Linked DNA regions of Homo sapiens. The protein of the gene in region 4 interacts with the protein of the main gene of each other region in a biochemical or structural test. Each region holds a gene or a part of one and is shown on either strand. Other genes may lie near its edges. The genes, in order: ITSN1, AGFG1, DAB2 and FCHO1.

The links.
Region 1: the proteins of FCHO1 (region 4) and ITSN1 form a complex in vitro, tested with the Homo sapiens proteins (one study listed by BioGRID).
Region 2: the proteins of FCHO1 (region 4) and AGFG1 form a complex in vitro, tested with the Homo sapiens proteins (one study listed by BioGRID).
Region 3: the proteins of FCHO1 (region 4) and DAB2 form a complex in vitro, tested with the Homo sapiens proteins (one study listed by BioGRID).

The regions. Positions count from the first base shown.
Region 1 is NC_000021.9:33,771,492-33,778,516, reverse strand, and holds part of ITSN1 (intersectin-1), read right to left. Parts: intron 6,457-7,025; coding exon 6,194-6,456; intron 3,789-6,193; coding exon 3,639-3,788; intron 3,550-3,638; coding exon 3,409-3,549; intron 1-3,408. UniProt on the Homo sapiens protein: Adapter protein that provides a link between the endocytic membrane traffic and the actin assembly machinery. Acts as a guanine nucleotide exchange factor (GEF) for CDC42, and thereby stimulates actin nucleation mediated by WASL and the ARP2/3 complex.
Region 2 is NC_000002.12:227,475,143-227,482,167, reverse strand, and holds part of AGFG1 (arf-GAP domain and FG repeat-containing protein 1), read right to left. Parts: intron 1-7,025. UniProt on the Homo sapiens protein: Required for vesicle docking or fusion during acrosome biogenesis. May play a role in RNA trafficking or localization.
Region 3 is NC_000005.10:39,386,980-39,394,004, forward strand, and holds part of DAB2 (disabled homolog 2), read right to left. Parts: intron 6,415-7,025; coding exon 6,275-6,414; intron 5,485-6,274; coding exon 5,386-5,484; intron 3,597-5,385; coding exon 3,465-3,596; intron 2,954-3,464; coding exon 2,873-2,953; intron 2,145-2,872; coding exon 2,118-2,144; intron 1,874-2,117; coding exon 1,820-1,873; intron 1,389-1,819; coding exon 1,326-1,388; intron 1-1,325. UniProt on the Homo sapiens protein: Adapter protein that functions as a clathrin-associated sorting protein (CLASP) required for clathrin-mediated endocytosis of selected cargo proteins.
Region 4 is NC_000019.10:17,746,742-17,754,476, forward strand, and holds the start of FCHO1 (F-BAR domain only protein 1), read left to right. Parts: upstream 1-4,735; 5' UTR 4,736-4,836; intron 4,837-7,467; exon of another isoform or gene 7,468-7,575; 5' UTR 7,576-7,620; exon of another isoform or gene 7,621-7,725; intron 7,726-7,735. UniProt on the Homo sapiens protein: Functions in an early step of clathrin-mediated endocytosis. Has both a membrane binding/bending activity and the ability to recruit proteins essential to the formation of functional clathrin-coated pits.

The DNA.
Region 1 (7,025 bases), on a different chromosome or scaffold from region 4:
CAAGTTCATTGACAGATAATCAAAACAGATTCAAGGAGAAGAAGAAAATCAGAATAGCCCTATATCTGCATAATGAATTTTATAATTAAGTCTTCAAGAAAGCTCCAGGCCCAGAGGCCTTCACTGGTGAATGCCACCAAAATTTAAAGAAGAAATGCTATTTCAACACAAACACTTTTAGAAAATAGAGGAGGAAGGAATATTTTCCAACTCATTTTCTGAGGCCAGCATTACCCTGATATCAAAACTAGACAAGAATATTAGAAGAACACTAAAAACCAATATCTCTGTTGAATTGAATTCAACAGATTTAAAAAGATCCTTAATAAAATAATGGGAAATGGAATGTAGTGAAATATTTTAATAAAGGGTAATATACCATGACCAAGAGTGGTTTATCCCAAGAATGGAAGGCTGATTTAACATTCAAATGGCAACCATGTACTTCATCATATTAACAAAATAAGAAAGAAAAAACACATACTTATCTCAATAGATGCGGGGAAAAAACATATGATCTATTTCAACACCCATTCATCATAAAAACCCTCAGCAAAAGGAGAAGTCCATCAACCTGATAAAAGGTGTTTACAAGAACCCTGGTTAACACTATACTCTATGGTGAGAGAGCTTTCCTTCATCGAGAGGGAACAAGGCTCTTCCCACTTCTATCCAATATAGTATGGGAGGTTCTGGTCAACAAAGTAAGACACACAAAGGAAGTTAGTTAAGCAATCACAGATATAAGGTCAATATACAAAAATAAATTCTATTTCCATATACTGGCACCAAACAACTGGAAACTAAAATAAAAATATGCAATATACAATAGCATCAAAAGCCACAAAATACTTAGGGATAAACTTTACAAAGTATCTACAAGACTTGGACACTGCAAACTACAAAACATTGCTGAGAGAAATTTATAACTACCAAAATAGAGATTTATGCCATAGATTTACTATTGCTGAGATGTCAAATCTTCCCAAATTGATTTATAAATTCAATGGAATTCCAACAAAATTCCAAGCATTTTTGTAAAAACTGATAAGCTGATTCTAAAATGTACATGGAAATGTTAAGGACCTGGAATAACCAAAAACAATTCTAAAAAGAACAATAACAGAGAATTCGTATCACTTGACTTCAAAAATTAGGTATCAACAGGGTGAGGTACTGGTAAAGGACAGACAGATCAAAAGAACAGAATAGAGTCCAGAATAGACCATTACAAATATGTTCAACTGATTTTCAACAAGCTACCAAGGTAACTCAATGGGAAAAAAGCCAGTGTTTTTAATAAATGGTGCTATAACAACTGTGTATCAGTATGTAAAAATATAAACCTCAACCTTTACCTTATACTATCTGCAAAAATCAACTTGAAATAGCTCATAGACCTAAACATATAAGATACAACTATGAAACTTAAAATTTTAAGTTTTTTTCAATTTATAAAAACTTGTAAAAATTATTTTTTTAAGCCCCAAAAACTTCTAGAAGAAAATAAAATATTTGCAGTCATGGGGTAGTCAAAGATTTCTCAGATAGAACATAAAAAGCATGAACACCAAAAGAAAAAAAACGGTAAACTGAACTTCATCAAAATTTAAAACTTCTGCCCTTTAAAAAATACCACTAACAAAAATTAAACCCAAGCCAGATTGGGAGAAAATATTTGCAAAACACGTATCTGACAAAGGACTTGTTAAGAATATAAAAAGAACTTTTACAAGTAAATAGTAAGACAAACAGCCCAATAAAAAATGGGCAAAAGATTTGTTCAGACACTTCAACGAAGATGCACAGTAAAAAATACTCGCCAATAAACATGTAAGATGATTCCCAACATCATTAGCCTTCAGGGAAATACAAATTAAATGATCAGAATGTAAAATGGTACAAACTCTTTGCAGTTTGTCAGTTCTCTTTCTTTCCTTTCTCTTTTCTCTCTCTTTTTTTTTTTTTTTTTGAACAGGGTCTCATTCTGTGGCCCAGGCAGTCAGTGGCTCAATCATAGCTCACTGCAGCCTCGATATCGTGGGCTCAAGTGGTCTTCCTGCCTCAGGCAGGTACTACAGGTGAACGCCCCCATGCCAGCTAATTTTTAAGTTTTTTTTTTTTTTTTTTAGAGATGGGGTCTTGCTATGTTTCCCAGGCTGGTCTCAAACTCCTGAGCTCAAGCAATCCTCTTACCTTGCCCTCTCAAAGTATTGGGTTTACAGGTGTGACCCACTGTGCCCAGCCTGACAGTTTCTTATGGGGTTAAATATACACTTACATGACACAGTAGTTCCATTCCTAAAAGTTTACCCAAGAGAAATAAACCATTTCCACATAAAGACTTGTACATAAATGCTCACTGCAGTTTTATTCATAAAAGTTCCACACTGGAAAGAACCTGAATATCAACCAGTAGGTGAATGGACACATAAGGAAACACTACTCAGTGATGAAAAGAAACAAAAGAGTCATTCACTCAGTAACATGGACACATCTCAAAAACATCATGCTGAGAAAAAGCCTAACATAAAGGAATCACAGGCAAATATGATCATCCACAGGCAATATTTACATGAATTTGATGCCCCTGTAGTTCAGCACTTGATACCAAACCAGGTGATATTATAACAACTTTGGATAGGCTTTAAAATGAAGACAGAACTACTAAAAGTGCTCTGTATGTCTCCAACTATTTAGTATACATATAGCTCTCATATGACCCCCTAAAATACTTAAGTGTACTTATTTATTGTAATTACCACAGTAAAGCCAAAGTCCTGTTGGTGGACTACAGGTTCTGTGTGATCCAGCTCCCACCTGCTCTACCCAGTAGTCTCCTTGCTGTAACTGGCATCTCAGAGTCCTGCTACGACCTCAGGACTTTGGCACTATTTCCCTGCCTAGATCTTGCTCTGCCAGATACCCACATGGCTTAGCCTGTCATTAATTTCAAGTCTCTGCTCAAATGTCACCATCCAGAAAGACCTGTCTTGGCTACCTTAGTTAAAATCACAACATTTCCTATCCCTAGGACTCTCTATTCCCTTCCCTACTCACTCTCCATAGCACTTTTCATCTTCTAATACAGTACACACTTTATTTTGTTAGTCTCTGTTCCTCCTGCAAACAGAGGGTAAGCTCCCAGAAGACAGAGTGTCTGTCCCTGCTGTAGCCTCAGAAACTGCAAAAGCACCTGGCCCGAAGCAGTGCTCAGTAAATATTTGCTGAGTTTGTCTCCTTGACAGGCTACTTTTCACACAAGGACCCTGTCTACTTCATTTTTGCTTCCCAGTGCCTAGTACAAGACAGTTGCTTAATGTTTACTGAATAAGTAAGTAAATGAAATGAATTAGAGAAAAGGATGCCAGTTTAATATAATAGCTTTTAAGAGGCATATTTCCTCACCTGTAATTGTTGCTGTAGATGGGTGATTTCGGCAATTCTCAACTCTCTAGATTTGTTTGTGCTCTCAATTTCTTGCCTTTGGGTGGTCAATCGACATCTGATATCTTGAAGTTTCCCTTCTAGTTGATGCTTTTTATCATTCTTGAACAAATGAAAGATAATAAAAATTATTACTGTTTTTAATGGTTCCATCTTAGTATATTTTCAAAGTATAACCAAACTTCACTCACTAGAGCTTCTAATTCAAATTCCAAAGTCTTTTTCTTTGCTTTCAGTACAACTATGTCCTCTTGTTCTTTGTTTCTTTGATTTAGTAGTTCTTGCCTTCGATTCCGTTCCCACTCAAGTTGTCGTTGCCTTTCAAGTTCCCGTTTTGCAGCCTGTGACATTTACAGAGACAAATTACTAATTTTTCAGTTCTTACACTACACAATGTCTTTTCACAAAAATGGCATCTAGGAAGTCTTTCCTTTTAGGGATGAAATATTAAACATTACAAGAAATCACATTAGAAAACAAAAAATTACATAAAAATACAGTATTCCTTCTATGGGAATAAAGGGAATACACAGAACTGGGTATTATATTTACATAATACTATATTTACGTAAGATGACAGGATTATTTCCCCATTAGAATTCCATTCTTTATGCCTTCAAGAATGCTTGATGTGCTAACTAAAAATGCTCCTTCTTATTTACTGACACGCCAAGAAGGAAAATTTATGTAGTAAAATCAAACTAAAACACCCCTGAACAAAAACAAACAAGAGTTGATTTTACTCCACCAAAAGAGAAATTATTACTTAACTCGTTTTAAAAGTCTGCGACTCCCCACTTCCTAATCATTCATTTCCTTTTTACCACAAAAGCTTTTGCTCCCTCCAACGACTGGCTCTGACGACTGCTAGATAGAGTACATATCAGAGCATCTGACAGTCTATGGGAATTGCCTCTGACTCATGGGTCATCCAACTACACCTGATACATGGTAAATGTCTATTAAATAATTCTGAATAAATACTCTAGAATATCATTTTTTTGGTACGTTGAAGAAAAGTTTGCCTATCTTTGTTCATTCTGAAAATTAAAATTTTGTTAGTGTCTGTCTGAACAAAAAGGAGTTACGGGGCCGGGCGCAGTGGCTCACGCTTGTAATCCTAGCACTTTGGTAGGCCGAGGCAGGCGGATCACCTGAGGTCAGGAGTTCGAGACCAGCCTGGGCAACATGGCGAAACCCTGTCTCTACTAAAAATACAAAAATCAGCCAGGCATGGTGGCTCACGCCTGTAATCCCAGCTACTCCGGAGGCTGAGGCAGGTGAATCACTTGAACCCAGGAGGTGAAGGCTGCAGTGAACTGAGATCGTGCCACTGCACTCCAGCCTGGGCAACAGAGCGAGAGTCTGTCTCAAAAAAAAAAAAAGGAGTTATGGCTATAAGTTTTGTTTCTTTCTTTTTTTGAGACAGGTTCTTGCTCTGTCACCTAGGCTGGAATGCAGTGGCCTCCAACTACTGGCCTCAAGTGATCATCCCTCCTTAGCCTCCCAAAGTGCTGGGATTACAGGCTTGAGGCACAGCACTCAGGCTATTTTTTTACATCGAAAAATTCCTCATTTTTATCTTTCATTCACATGAAAGAACCATGTGTTGCTTCTGCAGTAATGTACTAAAATTGGAAAGAGAGACAAGATTTGCTTAGCCCCTTTCCAGGTATGGCGCTAAATTTACGAAGCCTTCCATAGAATATAGGGAGGATGTCCCAGACATATTTTTAAAAGAGTTTAAAAAGAAGGTTGCATGGGCCAGGCGCGGTGGCTCATGCCTGTAATCCCAGCACTTTGGGAGGCTGAGGCGGGTGGATCACCCGAGGTCAGGAGCTCGAGATCAGCCTGACCAACATGGTGAAACCTCATCTCTACTAAAAATACAAAATATTAGCTGGGCGTGGTGGCGGGCACCTGTAATCCCAGCTACTCAGGAGACTGAGGCAGGAGAATCGCTTGAACCCAGGAGGCAGAGGTTGCAGTGAGCTGAGATCATGCCACTGCATTCCAGCCTGGAAGTGACAGAGCGAGACTCTGTCTCAAACAAAAAAAAAAAAAAAAAAGAAGATTGCAGAACAATGTAATTGGTATGATACTATTACAGTGGTTTTTAAAAAATTATACAGCCCTTACACTCTCCGCCATATAAACCTTTATATTTTTATATAGGTGTATACAGAGAAAACAGTCTGGAAAAACACTTTACTGGTATCAGTGGTTTGTTACAAAATTGTATCATCAAAAACTTGTACATTAATGTTCATAACATCATTGTTTATAATAGCCACAATGACCATCAACTGCTGAATGAATTAAAAAATGTGGTATACCCATATAACGAAATATTACTCAGCCATAAACAGGAATAAAGGACTGATTCATTTTACAATGTGGATGAACCTTGAAAACATTATGCTAAATGAAAGCCAGAAACAAAAGTCCATATATTGATGATTCCATTTATAAAAAATGTCCTGAATAAGTAAATCTAGAAAGATAGAAAGTAAAATTAATGATAGGAGCTGGAGGGAGAAAGAAATGGGGAGTAGCTGCTTAATGGGTAAAGAGCTGGAGTGATGAAAATGTTCTGGAATTAGGGACGATGGTTGCACAACTTTGGGAATATACTAAAACTACTGAATTGTAAAAAGACAAAGATGGCGTGAATAGATCACTTGGATAATTCTGAAAAGGGGTGATCGCACACTAACTCCGGGTGGCTCCACTCTCGCCTGCTTACCTCTCGCCTCTCAATTTCTTTCCTCCTCTCCTCCTCTCTCTGCCGTTCTAGCTCCCGCTGCTTTTCCAGTTGCTTCTCCAGTTCCAGTTGTCTTTTGCGCTCTTGCTCCTGGCGCTCACGCTCCTTCCTCTCCTGCTCCGCCCGCTCCAGCTGGGCCAGGCGCTCCTGCTCCTTGCGCTGCTGTTCCAGGAGAGCTTGCCTTCGTTTCTCCAGTTCCAGGTTGCCACGTTCAAAGTTCTCCCGCTTCTTATCTTCAAACGTTACTTCAGACAAGGAACACAGCAACTATGAAAACTCAAGATTTTCAACGGACTCTTTTCAAAGGAAAACTCACCAATGTATTTGAAATTTGTAGTACAAACCCAAACCCAGAACTCCCTAAGCTTCTGTGTCCTTGTTAATGAGCACAACGAAAACCCCCTTTGCCTAACCTCTCTGTTTATATCTTCTCCTCCACGCCAAACACTGTTTCTAAAAGATCCTTATCTAGCAGTTCTACATCACCATCCAGACTCCTTTCCTTCCCTGTTACTCCATCCTTTCCCTTCTTCCCATGAGCTTGCCCTAGGAATTAACCCCCTCTCTTCTGGACCATGAGTCTCTGTCTCTCTCCCTCCTTCCCTTTGCCTTGTAACCGTGCTGATGAGTCCTCTATTCTAACAAGATTTCTCAAAGCAGAGTGAAAGGTGAGCATTCGGCTTTTCACACTGAAGAACAAGCTGTGCCCTGATCCCTATGGAGATCACAGTCAGTCAACAATTTTTTCTAACCCATTATTCAGTTTCCTTCTTTAACACATCAATTATAAATTTAGAATGATTACTCAGTTCTA
Region 2 (7,025 bases), on a different chromosome or scaffold from region 4:
CAAGGCTGGGTGCGGTGGCTCACGCCTGTAATCTCAGCACTTTGGGAGGCCGAAGCGGGCAGATCACGAGGTCAGGAGATCGAGACCATCCTGGCTGACATGGTGAAACCCCGTCTTTACTAAAAATACAAAAAATTAGCGGGGCAAGGTGGCGGGCGCCTGTAGTCCCAGCTACGTGGGAGGCTGAGGCAGGAAAATGGCGTGAACCCGGGAGGCAGAGCTTGCAGTGAGCAGAGATCGCGCCCCTGCACTCCAACCTGGGCAACAGCGAGACTCTGTCTCAAAAAAAAAAAAAAAAAAAAAAGTAGTGGACAAAATCTAAATCTCTTCACATGCCCAAACCCACAACGAAATGACAGTAAAGGAATAAGAAGGTATTAACCCACAAGAGACAGAGGGTTACCATGATGTGTTTATCTCATACTGCATGCCTGTATCAAAACTCCTATCTTGTGTACCTCATAAATACATACACCTACTATGTGCCCACAAAAATTAAAATAAACAGAGCGTCAGAGAACAAGAGAAGAGTCCAAAAGCACACGACAGTTCTTGAATAACAAAATTTGGAAGATTTAAAAACAAAATACCAGCAGTAAGTGACTTTATGGAGAAAGCCAAAACAGAAGCTTCTGCAAAGGTGGGAGAAGCCAACTGGAAACTGATTCCCACCACAGGACATATCAAGATTTACTGAAGGAACTGGATACAGGTGAGGGCTTAAAGTGGGGTCAGAAATCATTAGACTCTCCAGTTCCTTAACAGCCAAAAGCATACTCCCACCAGCCCTAGGTGGGAAGTCTGAAGGAAAGTTTTAAAGAGGTTATACCACAGAGACTTCAAACTCAAGACACTGCTGAAGACTCTTGTTAGGGACCATGTGGAAAGCTGGAGGATTATCTAAGATCAAACACACAGAATGACAGTCACCTCCCTCAACTTGGTTCCCAGAACAGTGGCATCACAGGCTTTTATATTCCCCAAAAAAGAAGATTGGAGAAAATATGTCTGCACTATAAAAAGCGTGAGTTTCCAAACAAATTCAAAAAAAAAAAAAAAAAAAAAAAAGCCTAAAACACTGAACAAAAGACCTACACCAAAATACTTCAATATGAGGTTCTGAACAGCAGGAAGAAAAGAAGATCTTACATACTCCAAAAGAGGGAAGAAAAGAAGTGGGTCAGAAAGACTCAGTAATAAGAATAGCATCAGACTTCTCAACAGCAACACTGAAGGTTTGAAGACAACTAAGCAATATATTGAAAGTTCCAAGGGTAAAGTATTTTCACCTTTGTGAATGTAGGCAAACTAATTTTTAAAAAGAAGGCAGAATAAAACATTTTCAGCTTTGTGGCTTTCAAAAATGACCTCTCATTCACCTTTCATCAGGAGGCTAACGGAAATGTTGGGGGTCCTGGAAACAGAGCATCTAACATAGGTTACAAGTGAAGGGAATTTCCAGAATGAAGATAGAAGAAAAGTTCTGGTATGAGAGCCGCACAGCAGGCCTAGACAGCAGCATTTCCAGAGCAGAAGATTATAAAAGTACCCAGAAACAGTTAAAAAAAAAAAAAAAGTAGCTGATGCATCTGATCATATTGAAGGAAGTTCATTGCAGCTCATGCCTGTAATCCCAGCTACCAGGGAGGCTGAGGCAGGAGAATCACCTGAACCTGACAGATGAAAGTTGTAGTGAGCTGAGTTGGCGCCACTGCACTCCAGCCTGGGAGATGGAGTGAGACTCCATCTCAAAAATAAAATAAAATAAAATAAGAAATATGGAAAGACAAGAATTTTTGGAATCTGACAATTACAAGGAAAATTCCTCTTTCCTTTTCTGAACATACACTGTTTCTCCATAACTTACAAACACTGGTGTTGCATCTCCCCCTAGAGTCGTAAAAATAAATGTATTACCTCTCCCAATGCCTTAAATTACCCAATGACAGTGATCATGTGTACAGCTCCCCCACTGTCTAATCTTTTCTTCTTTAAGCTAGTAGCATTTTTGGTTCCTGCAAATGTTCCTCTAATACATAGTTTCAAACTTCCTTACCATCTTGATCAGATTCCTTGGAGCATGCTCCAGTTTGTTAACATTCCTCTTAAAACAAGCAACCAGAATAAAAGTAAGGTATAATTATGACCTCTACAAAACATGTATGGTGTCAATCAAAAAGATTGCTATCTTAGTCAGAAGTCTTTGAGCAAAGTATGTTCTAACACAAACAAAAATTAATTCTCTGTATTTCAAACAACTCAAATAAGTTTCCTGTCCCCACTGAATAGCTCATGAATTTCATTCTAATGTTCAATCAGGTGTCTTTAGCAATAGTTCTCGTGTGTAAGGTTGTAAAAAATGTCACAAGGAACATGCTATTAATGTAAGTACTCAAAGTTATAACTGATTTTAAAACGTTTTTACATACATTAAAGGTATCCAAGTTGTATTTCCCTAGACAATCATCACTTTGATTTGAATTAGAAAACACATTCAAGTGGGGGAAAAAATGAGGGGGAGTAGTAAAACCTAGTCCCGAATATTTCCATAGGAGTTTCTCACAAATGTGAACATCATGCACGCTGCACAGAAAAGAAGGAAAATATCAAATAAGGAGATTTGCCTGTTTTCCAAAGAATGCTATTGGAACAGATACAGAGGTTTCTAAAAAGACAATGATTTTCAAATTGAGATCCAGAGGTCGGCAAGTTCTTTTAAAACAATGTCTTAATTCTTTTCATTTATAATGCACTAATATTATAAAATTTAATGTAAATTTAATCTAAACTGTATTTTATCCACTTTGAAACTAAAAGCCAGTGTTTAAAAATCACATGCCAAAAATGATGGATGAATGAATAGGGAACAGAAAAAGGCTTAACATGGCAATAATGCCTTTATACTCAGTTATGGTCAAATGATGTCACCACAACCTGAATGCTGGAGTTTTCCCAGTATAAAAGGTACCCACAGCACTATACAGAAGAGTCCTTCTTATCCAATTTGCTGGTTAAATCTATGTTTCTCCTTCCCTCTGAGAAACCTAAAGTTAATGCCTACTGCACAATGAACATTCATGGCTAGAAGGCCACTTTCTCCTGCTCCTCTCTCAGGAGAGAGTGAGTTTTATGCTTATCAAAATTTGTCTGGTATAGTATTTGGTAATATAGTTGGTACAGTACTTGGTAAGTATATAGTTTAAGTGAATGTCATGTAAAACAATGGCATGAGTGAGAAGAATTATTTCCATGTAAACTAAGTATTTTTAGAGACTAAAACAAGTCACTAGGATAAGCTGTTATTTGACCATGGAAAAGAACTGTAAAAGACTGAGAGAAAAATCATAAAAATCTAGAAGAATTCAGCATTCAAACTGTTTTATAAGTACATTAAAATGCTAAAAATCATAAATAGTACAGCATGAGTCTGGGTTATATTAGGGGACAAAGAATCTAATCAGTGGACCCATATTCAAAGCCTTATGTGCCAGCAAATTAACAGTTGTATGTTAAAATTTAAAAACCTAAGCTTGAGGCAGGGCATGGTAATTCACGCCTGTAATCCCCACAATTTGGAAGACCAAGGTAGGAGGATTGCTTGAGCCAGGAGTTGGAGATCAGCCTGGGCAACATGGCGAAACCCCATCTCTACAAAAATTAGCTGGGCATGGTGGCACGCGCCTGTAGTCCCAGGTACCTGGGAAGCTGAGGTCGGAGGATCACCTAAGCCTGGGGAGGTCAAGGCTGCAGTGAACCATGATAATGCCACTGCACTCCAGCCTGGGCGACAGAGTGAGACCCTGTCTCAAACCAACAACAAAACCCAAACAAACAAAAAAACCTATGCTTGCTAAATATATATATTATATATGTATATATAATAGATACATGTATATGTATGTGTGCATGTATGTATTTTTTTTTTTTTACTGATTGCTTGCTTTAACTGAATTTTTTGATAAACTTATCCACTATCAAACTTGACTGCATACAATGAGGGGTTCTAATTAGAATTCAAATATAAAAAATAGCACGAGAATTACGGCACATGGTAGTATGCACATGCCAAATTGAAAAGAATCGCTGTTGGAACGGCACCATCATTCCCATTGATTTCAGAATACACAACAGTATTTTCTCAATGAAACTCAAAAATAAGAACACACATTTTGGAGCTAAGAAGTTCCCTAAAAATAATAAAAAGCATGACACAGCCATAAAACAAACATTTATGATGCATCATAAAATATCTATTCTGGGCTGGGCATGGTGGCTCATGCTTGTAATCCAAGCACTTTGGGAGGCCGAGGTAGGTGGATCACCTGAGGTCAGAAGTTCAAGACCAGCCTGGCCAACATGGTGAAACCCCATCTCTACTAAAAATACAAAAAAAATTTAGCCAGGCATGGTGGTGCATGCCTGTAATCCCAGCTGCTTGGGAGGCTGAGGCAGGAGAGTCGCTTGAACCTGGGAGGTGGAGGTTGCAGTGAGGTGAGATCGCACCACTGCACTCCAGCCTGGGTGACGAGTGAAACTCCGTCTCAAAAAATAAAAACAAAAAAAAGAAAAAGTCTTTTTTCTGCCATTTGAAACACAATGAAGTAAAATCTACCATTTAAATCCCCAAAATATAGAATTCACAACAATTTACGGTAACCATGGTAACCATACATTCTTTGGTGGTGGAATCAGCATCAGTTCCAGATCCCAACTTCTAGCAGGTTATAACAGCAAAACACTAAGAGTGTGCACTAATTTTACAACTTAAAGTTGAGCTTGGATAATAGTACCTTCCTCACATCACTGTTACTAGAATGTCTGTCACACAGCTAGCACTCAATAGTTTTTTCTTTTTTTTCAATAAATACTTTAACTGTTGTATCTCCAGCACATGGGCTAGTATCTGGCACTTAATAAATATTTGCTTAAAATAAAAAATTTGTCCTTCACAATTGAAAAAGTATCTAGGCCAGGCGAGGTGGCTCATGCCTGTAATTCCAGCACTTTGAGAGGCCAAGGCGGTGGATCACCTGAGGTCAGGAGTTTAAGACGAGCCTGGCCAACATGGCGAAACCCAGTCTCTACTATAAATACAAAAACTAGCCGGGCATGGTGGCGGGCGCCTGTAATCCCAGCTACTTGGGAGGCTGAGGCAGGAGAATGGCTTGAACCCGGGAGACAGAGGTTGCAGTGAGCCGTGATCGTACCACTGCACTCCAGCCTGGGTGACGGAGTGAGACTATGTCTCAAAAAAAAAAAAAAAAGAGAGAGAGAGAAAGTATAAAATATTTTGGCCACTTACTCTAAATACTTAACTGAATGTGGCCATATCAGAGTATCCAAAAAAAGTAAAAAAGGAATTAAGAATATAAATCCCTGCTCACTGTGACCTCACAAGGTCCTGAATATTATACACAGAGCTCCAAAAGAGCATCTGATTTGCAATCCATCCTAATGCTACTAATTGTATAAAAACATTAAATACCTCTTTTCATCTGTCATCTAAAAAAAATTAAAATTCTTGTAACATTCATCTCAAGAGTCAATGTACACAGAATCAACAGAATATAAGTTACTATCCAGCTACATTTATTACCTGTGAAATTTCAAGCTTAAATGCACTGTCCACATAAAATAGATGGTATTAAAGTGGCAACCTCTTTCTCAAATGTTATTTTTTATTTTATCTAAACCCTCACTGAAAAATTTATGGATCACTTTTTAAGGCTAGGACAATCTTTTATATTACATATCAATTATACTAATGTTTATAGTCTCCATAAAACAAATAATTTAGTCTAAAACTAGTCTTTAAATCAACTAGAAGTTATTTAACATGAAGGCCATTTTTACTGTTGGCTATATTTTAAATGTCTGAAGTGTCCATTCAGAATTTTAGGGATTTCCATAAATACAACCAGAAAGACAGTGAAAGATAGTGACAAACCAATCAGTTAGGATGCCTTCATCATTCTGCCTCAGTAACAAATAGTTTAACTGCATCTAACTCTGAAGTTCATTTTAAAGTTTTACAATCTAAATTCAGTTACACTCTGAATGAACATCATTCAAGCATATAGGACAGTCATCTGAAAAAAAAGAAACAAGAAAGATTAGCTCCAAGTCTAGTAACATTAACAACAAGATGCTAGTTCAATTTATTTTAAAAAAAGGTATTAGTATAAATGATAGAAGGTATGTCACTATCCTAAAATTTAGAATTCATGATAGTGGATACTATTTGCTATGTATTCATATTTTCCAGGTAAATCAAGGAACGGCAGCTAGCATGCCTTATTTCAATATTTGTAACTCCAGTGCTTAGCCCTATCCTCAAATACGGTATGTGCTCAATAAGTAAATACAGTAACGATGTGTATCATTGAATCCTCTTAACAACCCTGAGCTATATGATATCTTCTTAACATAAATAAAGAAACTGAGGCTACAAGGATGGATCTGGGCCAATCTGCATGTAGTGGCCTAGCATAACACCTTGCCCTAAGCCACGAAGCTAGTAGCATTGTCAAAATCTGACTTCAAAATTCATATTCTTTCAATTATACCATGTCATCTAAACATCAGATACATAATTATTAAACCCAAGAGTTATATTATTCTTCCTAAATTATTTTCCTGCACTATTGCTTGTCAAAGAAAAAAATCTTCAGAAGCTATTGTCCCTCCAACGTTCTGCAGTAGACATTTGATGGTTGCCACTCTAGTCTTCATTCCCTACATCCCAAGAATTCTAGATTTCAGATTTGGGAACTCTATTTGGGGATCCTTGTGACAATGAAGTCAGGTTAGAACATGTGTCCAGTTGTGGCATGATCTAAGCTAACCCAATCAGAGGGAAATGCAGAACTTCTGAAAGTATTGGACCAACGACATAATTAAGGCAGTATACCCAGGAGCTGGGGACAACCATGCTCGAATGAGGAAAATCTAGGCAATATTATTAAGCCACTGTATAGTTTTACTTTAAAATCAATCAATAAACCCTTCATATTTTTAAACCAATT
Region 3 (7,025 bases), on a different chromosome or scaffold from region 4:
GAAAGGTTCTATAGGCAAGTGAGTTAGGGCTCACTGCTAAAATGAATATTAAACAGGCTTCTCTCTTAAAGGCATTTTAGAATGCTACCATGCATTGTGATACTCATATGGTTAGGGTCAGAGAAGAATGCATGAAGTCCCTGCTCCTCTCCATCTCATTTGACCTGAAAGTTTTATGCAGTAAGGATTCACAGGCCTCAAATTCTCTGCAGAAGTCTGAAGGGAGAATTTTATCCAATCTTTGATCCATTGCTTCAACTCCTGTAACCTTGGTCACATAGGCTTCCATGATAATTTCCTGATACAAGAGAGTCCTTTCTAGACATTTCCCCCCATTATTCTAGACTAATTCTCTTTTTGTCTGTTTATTGCCTTCTCATCTTTTATGTTCAAATCTAGAAACTCACTCCTGCAGAAGCATTACCTGAATCTGAACTAGATAAATACCCTGTAGTAACATCAATTACTAACGATGTGATTAGTTTTAATGTTGGTCTCCCTGCCGGAGAGTAAATTCCATGATGTCATTGATGTTGTGCATCTTACTGCTATGCCTTGCAAATAGCAGGTGCTCAGGAAACTGTTACATAAATAAAAGAAGTTGCAAGAAGTCATTCAAAATGTCATGGACATTTTCATTAGAGGTATGTTTTGGAAGGTCTGAAGACTTGGGCCTAAGTCTTGAATCTGGACCTCTTTCCTTTTTATTTTTTTTTCTTCTTTTTTTTCCCTGAACCACCATTTTTTTTTAATTTATAAAGGAAAATACTGTTCTGTTCTTACAGGGTTGTTACAGATCATTCAATATTGAGCAGACTGGATATGGTATAAAATCCTATGAGAATGGGCAGCTTTCTAACAAGGACAAGCTTTGGTGGAATATAACTGAGCCACTTGTTTGTTTTAAATCTTACTTCACACCAAATTTATGCTGCTAAATTGCAACAGACAGAATGCAAAAGAAATGAAGAGGCCAGGAGGCTTTATGATTAACCATCTAACAGTCATACTTTCTTCAAGTAGGCTTATTCAAGGACTATTATTCACCTCCTCCTTCTAATCCTAAGTGATACCAAGAAGGACTACATTGCTGACTTATTGTTCAGGTTTAATCTGTAAGCAATATTAATATAACTGAATTAGTGTGGATAGGTTCCCATGGTGACTTAAGATTCACATTTATTCTAAAAACCATTGACACTTCATTTGCAAAAATCAACAGTCACCTTCCAAGTTTCAATGAGATGCTTAAGATTTCTGGTTATTGCCAATTTGAGTTATAGATGTCATTTTATTACATTGCAAATTTAAAAACAAACACTTACTGTTGGACTATTTAGGTCAGGAGGTGTAGACATGTCCCCAAACAAATCCATCTGGTCAACACCCTTAAAAAAGTATTTGGATTAGATTCAGATGTGTCTACTAAAAAAGATTACTTCGTATATTGTAATCATTTGTTTCCTAAAGTTTAGGAAAGTAGCTGTCACAATTTAATTTCCATTTAACTAATAGATTTCATATTAAGCTGTTTAGGTCAGGAAGTGTAGACATGTCTCAAAGCAAATCTATCTTGTCCACATCCTTAAAAAGTATTAGATTAGATTCAGGTGTGGCTACTAAAAAGATTACTTTTCTAATCTTTTTTTGACTACTTTTGTATATTGACATAGATGTTACACTAATATTTTGAAAAACAGTTGTCTCAATTGGATTTTCATATAGATTCAATACAGATTTGGTATCAGCAACATCTACAGGAAGTAGAACCCATGTTCAGATAAGTAAGAACTGTCAAACGTCACATATTAATACATACCGATTTCAGTTTGTTAGTTTGGTCATCTAGAATCATTAGGGCCTCACTCCCATTCTGAAAAGATAGCAAATATTTAAGGATTTAGTTGAGCTTTGTCTATAAAATGTATTTGTCCACTCTATTAGTCTGCTAAGCAGCAATGGTTTTGGTATCATCTTTTAACTAAACATCTTTCATGATCAGAGAAGTCATAAACACATAGTAATAAGCGAGGTGGCGAGAGTGGTTGGGCAGGTAGAAAACAGGGGCTTACGCATGTCACACACATGATTAACAAGAAGTAAAGATGCAATTTTACCTCAACTGCTTTGCTGGCTTCCTCTATCTAAAAAGAAAGATACATATTCAGTGATCTTCATATTCATAGTGAAAGGGAGTTAAATACACAAACAAGTATGCCTATGGTTCACAGGCATAAGGCAAGAATAAGTCTTGTATATTATTTCTGCCCTCCGTTCCCCTCCCCTTTTCATATCAATATAAGGTTTGAGTAGAGTTACTGGATTTAAACTTGGTTGTCCTGTATATTTCCTAGAATTAATATGAATCTCATAGAGAGAAAAAAAATAAAAGCCAGGGAGTGCAGATTAGAAGTGCCTAACCATAAAAATGTATCCATTGCCCTATTGGGAAGAATAGACAATACATATAGAAGCCAAATTTTCAGATAGACCATATTTATATATAATATTAAACATAGTCCTGAGTACAGTTTTAAGTTTGTTTGTTTGAGACAGAGTCTCGTTCTGTCGCCCAGGCTGGAGTGCAGTGGCACCATCTCGGCTGACTGCAACCTCTGCCTCCCGGGTTCAAGTGATTCTCCTTGCTTCAGACGCCCAAGTAGCTGGGATTACAGGTGCCCACCACCACCCCTGGCTAATTTTTGTAGTTTTAGTAGTGATGAGGTTTCGCCATGTTGGCCAGGCTGGTCTCGAACTCCTGACCTCAGGTGATCCACCCACCTCTGCCTCCCGAAGTGCTGGGATTATAGGTGTGAGCCACCATGCCCAGCCAGTTTTAAATTTAATAGAGCCTTAATCAGGTAGTACTTGCCTTTTTCTTTTCTTCTTCCTTTTTCTTTACATTATAGATAACTTGAAAAAGGTCTTTAAGATCAACAACTAATGGTTCAGCCTGCAGTAAGGGAAAGCACTGTTATCCGTATTTTAATTTTAGTATTTTATTTCCTTTGTCTGCTATCAATTATAATTCATACTGGGATTTTTTTTTTAATCTTAAAACGCCTTACTACCCTCTGCTGGCTTATAGGGGATCACCACCAACCCAATCCTCACCCTTAGGTATATAAAAGACAGCAGGGTTAATAAGTATTTAGACAAAACAAGAGGTATCATGATCATATTTGAAGTCCTTTAAGGTTCCTGAGAATAATTCACCACTGTTGTGAAGTCAGTATTCACTTTATAAGAAGGTCCATTCTCACAATCCTGTGGCACACAGCAGTGCATAGCTATCAATGACATTTTTAAAAGATTCCATAGGCCAATAAAAATAGTCATTCTCGGAATTATTATTTAGCCCTCTTACATCCAATTATTTCCAGTAAATCTTTTAGTTGAGTGACAGACACTCCAATGTCCACAGAGGACAAGTCCCCAGGTCTATGTCAAGACTTAGAGCTCACCTGTTGCCCGGTTTTTATGGCAAAAAACTGATGCTGGCCTTCTCCTCCACACACGTAACCAAATGCCCGGTTGTCTGTCACATCACGGGCAATGAAAGAAATCTTATTTACTGGATGTTCATGCTCTATTACCTTAAAAAAGAACATAAAGAGTAATTTATTAAGAAAACTAGAATCTATTTGCAGGCTAGCACACCGAAGCCTCAGACACATATATGAAGGCATATATGAAAAGTTTAAACCATTTGAAGATAGACTTTTCATTTCTGGTTGAAGGCTAGAGCATTACTCTTTCTAGAAAGGGCTCAAAAGAAAGAAGAATAGAAAACGTAAGTGGGAAGAATGTTCCTTCTTAAAATATTGATACTTTACTCTCCCTGCTTTAAAGACATGATGCCACATAGCCAGGAAGGACTGAGGATTAGAAGACCAAGTGAAGAGGAGACATTTAGCCCTTAAGCCAAGCCAAATAGGTCTACTTTCCCAACTCAAAGACAAACTTAAAAGAACAGCATAACTAAGCTAGAGGAGTGTTCACAGGGATTCATTGACGATGGCTCAGAGTGGCCGAGGAACCATCCTATGTGTTATTGGAACCGTATTCCCAGTATATTCTGGAGGATACCAAATACTGTCATCAAGTGTTTCTCAGCCTCACCTAGACAGCCTAATACATAGTAACATAATGTAGTAATAACTACAGTATGTTAATGACATAATGACTACATCAGTAACCAGGAATTATAAGGGGTGGGGACTGTATTGGCTTAGTGTCTTTTCTTCTATTTTTCCCTCCTTTTTCTTGATCCTTTCAAGCAGTTAACAAGGTTGAACTCTTTAGGGATATTTGTAGGTGGCAGAGTGTGTCTTGGCTTTTTGTCCTGAATGTCTAAGATATCTTAGAGTATCTTAGAAAGTTTGAGGAGACACAGAAGGGTGAGAGAAACATGCCACCTTTCTCTGATGGGCTTGGGAAAATAAGAGTTGACAGATAAAGGCGACTGATAAAGAGAGTGGTGCCTGAGGACCCCAGCACTAGCAGGCTGAGTGGGGTCCACTAGGGTGCCAGGGCCCTAGGTTTGCATGGTAGATAATGGGCACTCTAGAAAGGGATGAATAGTAACTGGAGGTCTCCTCACAGTATCGTGATGCGAGAGAGTATTTTATAGCAATGAAAATGAGCCACACACAACATTTTAAAAAACATGAGTCTTATGATGTTACATTGAGTACAGAAAAAAAATCACAGAAGACTTGATGTATGATAAATAGCTTTCTGATAAGGCTTAAAAACAAGGCAAAATAAGTAAGACTGTTCACAAGTAATAGAACAACAGGAACCAACAAAAACAAGGTTACATCTGTGAGGTGAGAAGGCAGGGAAAAAAGAAATGAAAAAGAGGTAGATGTGTTATGGGTGAGGTTCTAGCTTTAGGTTAGCCGGTAAGTTCACATGTAAGCAATACATAAAAGTGTCACAAACTAGGGGTTAAAATTAATCTAGTTCTGTATACCCGAGGTCAAAAAAAAAAAAAAAAATATATATATATAGAAGTTTTACTTTATAAATTATATATGTATTTATATTTTAATGTATATTTGTATATTATATAAATTATATATATTTATTTAATTTCAAAAATATATATATTTATATATTATAGACATAATGTGAATCTAAGCCTATTAACAGACTTAACAGACTTAGATTCACATTTATTATAGAACACAAATTCAAAATCAAGTATCTTGACTTTTACCTCCTATTCTGTTTTCTGCCTGTTACTTCTGGAGATGTAATATATGATATATTTGTTCCCCACAGAACTTTGAGAACGAAGAAGGGGAGCCGAAATTCAAGTAGCAAATTGTTGGTCAGACTCAGGTGGTCAGAGAGGTATCAGCAAATGTGAATTCTTACCCCAGTTTTCTCATCAATTATTTTTATCCCAGAAAGGGAAATGTTGACCCAGATCCTTTGTTTGTGTTGTCCCTGAGACCGACCAGCTGCCGCCATTCCCTGATGAGGGTGGAAAAACAAGAGAAGTTGAATTTTTAAAAACATCCTACAATGGTTTTAATATTAAAATTTTCAAAGTCAGTCAGCTTTGTTTTCGACTTGATCTGCCATCGATGAGAGGATTCGGCACTTTTCATCCGGGACAGCAAGACGGCATAGAAGACGTTGAACCAGGGCATCCCTTAGTTAGCTGTGCGAACTCGGACAAGTCACTCTAATTCTCTTGGCCTCAGAATAGTCACTGGTAAAGCTCAACTAGAAGATCTTTAGAGATGTTTCTTCTAGGCCTTGAACTATTGAACAAGTATTATTTATTCAGTCAGTTTCACATAGTGCCATAGTACTAAATTTTTAAATTCAAAAAACAGAAAGGCTAGCGCTAAGGAACACCAATGTCTAAGTAGAATCCTCAATTTTATCAGAACAATTCCCAGGTCTAAAACAGGATATTCCGTGCTCTCCACATATAGTAAGACAAGCAATGCAAATATTTGCACACAGCTTTTATAGGAATAGAAATAGGAATACGCTTGGTTCGTCCTAATGTTGAGCTTGCCAGAAGGAAAAGGCATCTAGAGTCCTATTATACTTGATAAAATTAGGTATCTAGGACATCCCTCCAAATATGCAAACACTCACGGTTTCTCAGAAAATGGGGCACTACTGATGGATAATGTGATTAAAAGCAGTTTTCAAGTAATTGAACAATAGGTCAACAAGAGCTTCTAATATAATTCCCTCTCTTGGACTTTTGCTTAATATACAGATAAAGCATTCATTTCCCTTTTACCTTTAGTTTCATCATAGAGTCTTGGCTCATTTTATCCCCTCTTGCATCTGGCACATCATCAATGCCAATCAGCTTGGCCTTATATTTTACACCATCGCCTTTGAACCTTGCTAAGAGATATTCATCTGTCTTTTCAGGGCCTGAGAAAAGAAAGGAATACAGGATGAAGAATGCTAGTTCTAATTATGACCAAATATGCTCTAGACTCTCCAAAATTTAAGTAATATAAATCCTGATTATACTACAACTGATCATGTATGTAATATTCTGTCCTGTCTTATTCTTACTTCCTTTGAGCAAAATCATGTTCCACAATCAACTGTGTATGGAGTTGAGGTGGGGAGAAAATAAACTGTTAGAAGTACAAAATTGACAGCGTTATGGGAAACGTATGGGAATATGGGAGGTGGGAGTTGGGGACATTTTTCATCATAGTTTTTTTTAAGTCTTTAAAGGAATATAAGGATGATAATATATGTATTTTTAATGTAAGAAAAATAAGCTGCCAAGCAATTTACCAACATTTTAAATTATCAATAAGGCAGAAAGGAATTATGCCTAAGTTCTCTTGAAAATTATTAAGATAATTATCCCATCTTTATAATGTCTTTTGCTCCTTTTACAAGGTCTGTGTAGTCCCATTCCCAATGAGTTCAGTAAAATCAAATGGTAAATAAATAACTGAATGATAACCATATAATAATTAACGACTGCATTATTAACTGAACAAGATGCCATGACTGTTTCCCAA
Region 4 (7,735 bases):
CTGAATCCACGGGATGAAATGCTGGTAATGAAGGGAAGAGAAGATCCTTAGGGCCTCCCAAGCTTCTGGTCTGTGCTCCTGGGCTGCCCTGACTGAGCCTGGGAGGCTGGTGGAGGGGCAAGAAAATCAGCCGGGTGCCCTGTCCCTAAGCAGAGGGTAGGATGGGGGACTGGCGGGTGTTGTGTAAGTTTATATTTTCTTTTTCTTTGTTTTTGTTTGTTTGTTTGTTTGTTTTTTAAGACGAAGTCTCACTCTTGTCGCCCAGGCTGGAGTGCAGTGATGTGATCTCGGCTCACTGCAACCTCCGCCTCTCGGATTCAAGTGATTCTCCTGCCTCGGCCTCCCAAGTAGCTGAGATTACAGGCGCCTGCCACCATGCCCAGCTAATTTTTGTATTTTTAGTAGAGACAGGGTTTCACCATGTTGGTCAGGCTGGTCTCGAACTCCTAACCTCAAGCGATCGAGTTCGAACTCCAAAAAAGAACTATCATATGGCATATGAGGGGATGACCTCCTCTGCAAGGTGCCGGATCCCGGGGCTGCCCTAGGCCGGCTGCAGACTTGCTGTGTGGCCTCCAAGCAAGATCTTGCCCTCTCTGAGCCTCAGATTTCCCATTTGTAAAATAAAGACCAATAATGTCCAGGTTACAGGCTTGTGGGGGGTCATCAACTGAGCCCTGCCTGTTCGCTCAATAAACGTTGGTCGCTCCTTACTCCTTACCACTGAGTCTCAGGGCGAAAGAGTGGCGCCTGTCTCTTTAAATTATGCAAATAGACTGCGGGTGGCGTAAGGGGGGGAACATAAAAAGGAGCCTAGTCTTCGGCTGGACCAATCAGCGCGCTGAGCTGGCGGAGCTGGGCGCCTAAATGGCCCAATGGGGGGCCGCGCGGGATCAGAGCCCGCCCTGCCTCCTGGCGCCGTCGCGGGGGTGGGGACTTTCTAGGCCACGCCCCGGGGGCGGAGCCCGCCGGCAGCCGCGCCGCAGCCGCGGAGGGAGGGGCGGGGCGGGCTCCGGTGTCAGCGACCAAGCCGCAGGTGGCGGCGAGCGCGGGGCTCGGCCCGAGCTCAGGAGGTGAGTGTTGCCCCCCGGAACCCCCTGGGATACCCTGGCCCGCGCAGCCTCCCACGCGCACCGTGCCCTGCAGCCCCGGCGGCTGCGGAGGGCAAAGGCGCGGCGGGACGCGAGGGATGGAGAGCAGGGGGTTGGGGCTACGCGGTGGGCGCCCCGGCTTCCCCCTCCAAGTGGTAATTGGGGGTCCGCAGGCGAAAATGGGGACCGCTCCCCAAATCCCCCGTCTCCTGGCCTAGAACCGAGCGTGCACGGGGGCGGCGACGACGCGAGACCCCTCCCCAAATTCTTTTATTCTAAGCCTAGGTCTGGGTTCTGGGGCTGCAAAGATGGGGGCGCCGCTCCCCTTCCAGCCTGGAACCCTGGGCGGTGGCTGAGATGGGGACCACCCGCAGATTCCCTCTTCCCAGCTCCGGCCTGCAGACCACCGGGGACCGAGACGAGGGACCCCTTCCCTTTTCCTCCACTGTGAACCCCTATCCAGGCCTGGTGGCTGGAGGAGCTGGGGTGTCACCTGGCCCCTCCTCTAATCTGCCCCATCCCAGTCCTCCACCTTAAGGATGGGGTGGGGGGCGTTTCACTGGCATCTTCTGTGGGGACCCCAAGGTTGGAATTTTGGGGAGGAGGTCACTGTGGGGTCCCCTGCCTGGCACGGTTTATCCAGGCCAGGCCTTGAAGGGCCTGGAGCCTGGACTTGGGGGGGGGGTCCCTCTTTTACTGAGGGGCGGGGTGTACAGCTAGCATCTGTTTCTGGGGATTAAAATAAATCGAGGTAAATTAGGATCTTGCCAGAGGCTGGCTGTGAGTGGGGTGCGGAGGAGGCTTGGGGGGTGGGGGACCCCTCCATCTGCCTTGGATCCCCCGAGTCACCTGCCCCAGCTGCACTGGGGACCAGGAGGCAGTGTCGAATGGACCTGCTTCACTGGTGACCTTGGGCAGGTGACAGCACCTTTCTGAACCTCGGTTTCCTCTTTTGAAAATTGAGGTTGGGAGCTTCGGACCCTGCATTTTACAGATTCTGAACTCACCCAGCCCACATTTTGTCCAATGGTGATTCACTCTTTTGCTTAACATGTGGGTGGTTTGGGGTCAAGACAGCATTGGGTTTGGAGACCCTCCCACAGTGCCTTGCTATCCTCTCAGCCTCAGTTTACTGCACTGCAAAATGGGTTGATGATGACACTCTGATATTGGGGCTGAGGGCATGGGGACAGGGAGTAAAACATAGGACCAAGCTGCAATGGCTGGGATGGGGCATCGCCACCCTGGTCTCACCATTGGGGCCACTTAGGGCACACCCTGACCCACATACCATCACCCACGCCAGGGGTGAACCTGTTCTCGGGCGAGGTCCTGGGCAGGAGGGGGTGGGAGTTGCCAGGCCAGCTCATTCCCTGTCCCTTGGAGCGCCCTCCCAGTGGTGGGCATGGGGCTGGGAGTCTGACACCCCCAGGTTTGAATTTGCCTCTACCTGTGTGTGTGTTTTTCCCTTGGTGCCTTTGTTTGTTCTTCTGTGAAATGGGCTGAATTCCTCTGGGAAGATGGGAGGAGTCTGTGGGAGGAGGAAGCTCTGTAAATACAGACATGATTATTATAATATTAATGACAGTATTAGTGCTCTTTAAATCGGGTCACAGCTGACCAGGAGGAGGGAGGGGAAGGGGGAGTCTATCAAAGGCATTGCCTGAGGAGACTCCAGCACCTGGGAAAGTTGGGTACACAGTAGGCATTCAATAGATGTTTGCCAAATGAAGTGAGGAAGAGGGAGGGGACCCATGGGGAGGACAGAAAATTTCTGAGAATCCCTGGCTCAGATTCCCACTTGGTGGCCCGAGTCACTGTGTGACCTGGGGCACGTGTCTCAGTTTCCCCATCGTGGTGCTGGTTGAGATAAGATACTGCCTTGAGGTGTGGTGACGAGAATCAAGCCAGATTGTCTGTGATCGCAGCCCAGGTGGCGAGGCCAAGAGGGGAGACATGACATAGTGGGTCATTGAAACAGCATGGTACCTGCTTGAACCAAGTGACTGGTCCGTGGGAAGGATGAGAAAACCCTTGCTACTGGCCCTACTGTACATACACTGGGGTCCAAGAGAGAGGGAAATGTGAGATCCTGTTTCCCAGGATCCTGGAAGCCAGATCGTGGAAGGTCAGGAGTGGCCCAAGGTCATCAGGCAAGACGTCAGCGGCTCCGGACACCCAGCCAGGCACCACTCGATTCCCAGGATGGGAGCTCGGGTCTTGCCTTTGTTGCTGATGTGGTTCCTGCTTTGTTTTATCTGTTCTGGGGCTGCTCACATGTCTCAGCCCCAGGTTTGCAAGACTTGGTGCCGGGAAGGCAGGATGGGGACCTCTGAGTCAGCTGGCAATGTGCTGTGTAACCTTGGGCAAGTCTCCGGCCATCTCTGGGCTTTGTGCTGGTACTGTACAGGCTGGGAGACTTGGGTTCTAGCAGGGCTGACTTCTCCATCAGACCCAAAATGCCCAGTGTCTCAGGCTCACAGTGCTTTTAGGGGTCCCTAGGTTGATGTTTTCACTTCTTTTAAAATCCAAAGGGAAAAAAATGAACTCTTGGGTTGAAGGAAACATTTTTGTGTATAATATTAATATATTTGTCTTTATGTCAATGTAGTTGTAAAATACAGTTTTGTTTTGTTTTGTTTTTGAGACAGAGTCTCTCTCTGTCACCCAGGCTGGAGTGCAGTGGCTCGATCTCCGCTCACTGCAACCTCCATCTCCTGGGTTCAAGCGATTCTCCTGCCTCAGCCTCCCGAGTAGCTGGGATTACAGGCATATGCCACCCCACCCAGCTAACTTTTGTATTTTTAGTAGAGACGGGGTTTTACCATGTTGCCCAGGCTGTTCTCGCACTCCTGGGCTCAAGCAATCCACCTGCCTCGGCCTCCCAAAGTGCTGGGATTCCAGGCATCAGCCACCACCTAAAATATAATTTTAAATTTCTTTTGTAGTGAAGGAAAGCGCTCATGAATGCAAAAATGTCTTCCCCTTTCTTTTCTTTTTTTTTTTTTTTTGAGATGGAGTCTCGCTCTGTCGCCAGGCTGGAGTGCAGTGGCGCAATCTCGGCTCACTGCAACCTCTGGCTCACTGCAACCTCCACCTCCCGGGTTCAAGTGATTCTCCTGCCTCAGCCTCCTGAGTAGCTGGGACTACAGGCATGGGCCACCACGCCCAGCTAATTTTTGTATTTTTAGTAGAGACGGGGTTTCACCGTGTTGGCCAGGATAGTGTCAACCTCTTGACCTCGTGATCCACCCACCTTGGCCTCTCAAAGTGCTGGGATTACAGGCGTGAGCCACCGCGCCTGGCCATGTCTTCCCCTTTCTGAGCGCATTTCCCTCTCTGAGCCTCAGTTTGCCCAGTCTGTGAAGTGGGTATCGGCCTACCTCAGGATGGCAAGATGTTGAATGCCTGGGCCAGGGTTGGTGCTCAGTTATTTCCCAATTGCCATGATTAATATTTGTTCGGTAAGAACAGCTCCAGGTTCAGGCCGGGGGGCTCCAGGTTCAAGCGCCTCTTGTTTACTCACCCATGGCCTGTGTGGTTCCAGGGAGGTCCCATGGGTGCTGATCGGGCGGGGGAGGAAAGGTGGCGGTTGGATGGTAGGCGGGGCGGGGTGAGCTTCCTGTCCCCCCCCCAACCCATGCACACAAGCCTCCAACTTGGTGCTGACGGAAGTGGCCTCGTGGCTGTCTCCTGGCGCCTGCCCCGTCAGACAGGGGCCCCATCCCACTCGCTACCCTGTCCGGTGAGTTTGAGCCCTGGCCAGTAGATACCCATCATCTCGCCTTGGCCCCCCTCAGGAACAGAGGGGAGGCCCCCCTGCCCGGAGCCTGGGTTTCAGGAGAAGTAGCAGGTGTCACTTCCTGGGCTGGCCAAAGCCTGCATGGGGCCACCCGTTGCCCTGCCCCCCGTCCCCCATTCCAGCTGTGAGTGGTGGTTTGGGTTAGGGGGGCGGCAAGGGGAGCTTGGAAACCCAGAGAGCCACGCGTGATGGTTTCAAACAGGAGGTCATTGGCAGACAGACCAGGGGCAAAATCACAGTCAGCCGGGACCAATGATTGATCTCTCTGTGCCTCGGTTTCCTTCATAAAGTTGGGGTTGCCTCTGAGGGCATGGCATGAAGATTGGATGAGCAGATGCGTGTGAATAGTTGGGTACAGGGTCGCACACATACTGGTGCTCCATGTGTATCTGTCTGCCAGAGGTGGGGTGAGGCAATCTAATTGAAACTGTGAAAACAGTAGTGAGATTCTTGGTTTCTGGGGAACTTGGGCTCCTTGGTTCCTGGGATCTTCTAGAACAATGTTGGCCATCCAATACAGCAGCCATCAGCCCCATGTAGCTACTGAGCCTTGGAAGAGAGGCTGGCACAGCTGAGGAGCTGGGCATATAATTGTATGTATGTATGTATGTATGTATGTATGTATTTAATTATTATTTTTTTAAGACAGAATCTCACTCTTTCAACCAGGTTGGAGTGCAGTGGGGCAATCTTGGCTCACTACAACCTCCGCCTCCCAGGTTCAAGTGATTCTCCTGCCTCATCCTCCCAAGTAGCTGGGACTACAGGTGTGTGCCACCACGCCCTGCTGATTTTTATATTTTTTGGTAGAGATGGGGTTTCACCATGTTGGCCAGGCAGGTCTCGAACTCCTGACCTCAAGTGATCCACCCACCTCGGCCTCCCAAAGTGCTGGGATTACAGGCGTGAGCCACTGCGCCCAGCCAATTGTATTTAATTTTACTTGGTTTAACATTAATACAAAAATTAATACAAAAATTAAGGCCAGGGGTTGTGGCTCATGGCTGTAATCCCAGCACTTTGGGGGTCCCAGGCAGGAGGATGGCTTGAGCTCAGGAGTTCGAGACTGGCCTGGGCCACACTAGTGAGACCTAGTCTCTACAAAAAAAAAAAAAAAAATTTATTTTTAATTAGTTAGACATGTAGTCCCAGCTACTCGGGTGGCTGAGATGGGAGGATCACTTGAGCCTGGGAAGTCGAGGCTGCCATGAGCTGTGATCATGCCACTGCACACTCCAGCCTGGGTGACAGAGCAAGAACCTGTCTCCAGAAAAAATAAAAAAATAAAAAAAACTTAATACAAAAATTATTCAGGCGTGAGCCTGTAGTCTCAGCTACTCGGGAGGCTACTATTCAAGGCTCCCTTGAGCCTGGGAGGTGGAGGCTGCAGTGAGCTATGATCGCACCACTGCACTCCAGCCTGGGCAACAGAGCGAGACCCTGTCTCCAAAAAAAAAAAAAATTAAGTCACCACATGGGGCTAGTGGTTCCCATGCCAGTCAGCACAGCTCTAAGAGATTTGGAGATGCTTAGGGTCCTGGTCATGGACAGAAGCTAAGAAATGATATGGAAATTTAGGGCTTTTCCCCTAGGGATGTCAGTGTAGCATGCTCACCACCCTACCCCTGCCACCAAACTAGGTTTCCTAAGGGGGTGTGGTGGGGACTGAAGTTTTTCAGGGGCCCTGTCATTAACCAGTGCAGGGTTGGGAATGTTTGTTGAAACAAATAATTCCTTGCCCAGTGAACTCCTATTCATGCTTTAAAACCCCAACTCCCATGAGCCCTCCTTTAGTCCAGGTTCTTTTGGACCTTGTCCCTCCATCTGGCCCAGCCCTGACCATGCAGGACGGTGATATCTGTGTCCAGCTCTGTCTCTCTAGACTGGGGACTCCTGCAGGGCCAGGCCCGAGGCTGAATCAACTCAGGGACCCTGACATTGTTCTAGTCTGGGTGAGCAAGTAGGAGGTCTTGGGTGACTCACAGAAGTCCCGGGATTGGAGGCTCAATGATAATGGGTCCAATTAAACTAACTAACTTTCTTTCTTTTTGAGACAGGGTCTTACTCTGTCGCCCAGGCTGGAGTGCAGTGGCGCCATCTCAGCTCACTGCAACCTCCGCCTCCCAGGTTCAAGCGATTCTCCTGTCTCAGCCTCCCAAGTAGCTGGGATTACAGGTGCCCGCCACCACACCTGGCTAATTTTTGTATTTTTAATAGAGACAGGGTTTCACCACTTTGGCCAGGCTGGTCTCAAACTCCTGACCTCAAGTGATCTGCCCGCCTCGGTCCCCCAAAGTGCTGGGATTACAGGCGTGAGCCACCACTTCTAGCCTAAACTAACTTTCAAGATTAGGTAAACTGAGGCACAGAGAGGGGCAGCCTTGCCCAAGGTCTTGCTCAGTCCTTTCCTGGGGAGGCCCCGGGAGCTTCCCCATCCTGTGGTCACGGGTCCCTGTCACTCCTGCCACTGTTCCTACGAGGCTCCCAGCTGCTACCGAGCTGCCTGTGGGGTCATGAATTATGCATGAGGCCTGCAGGCTCCAGTGACAAGCCTGGCCTCTAGAACATGCCAAGGACACTGCCTGTCCGTCCCCTGCCGGGCGGCCTGACCCAGCCTCTTGTGCAGAGACACCTGGGGCTCCCCGGCAAGATCCCTTCTAAGCATTCCTTCTTATTTTGCAGATGGGGAAACTGAGGCACGGAGCTGGACAGTGACTCAGACACCAGGTGAACACTGGCTTTTGAGGGCAGGGTTGGGACTCGTGGGGGCAGCAATGCCAGCTGGGTCATCACAGTGAGGAGTGAGCTCTGACTCCCAGGAGGGTACATAAGGTGAGGACTG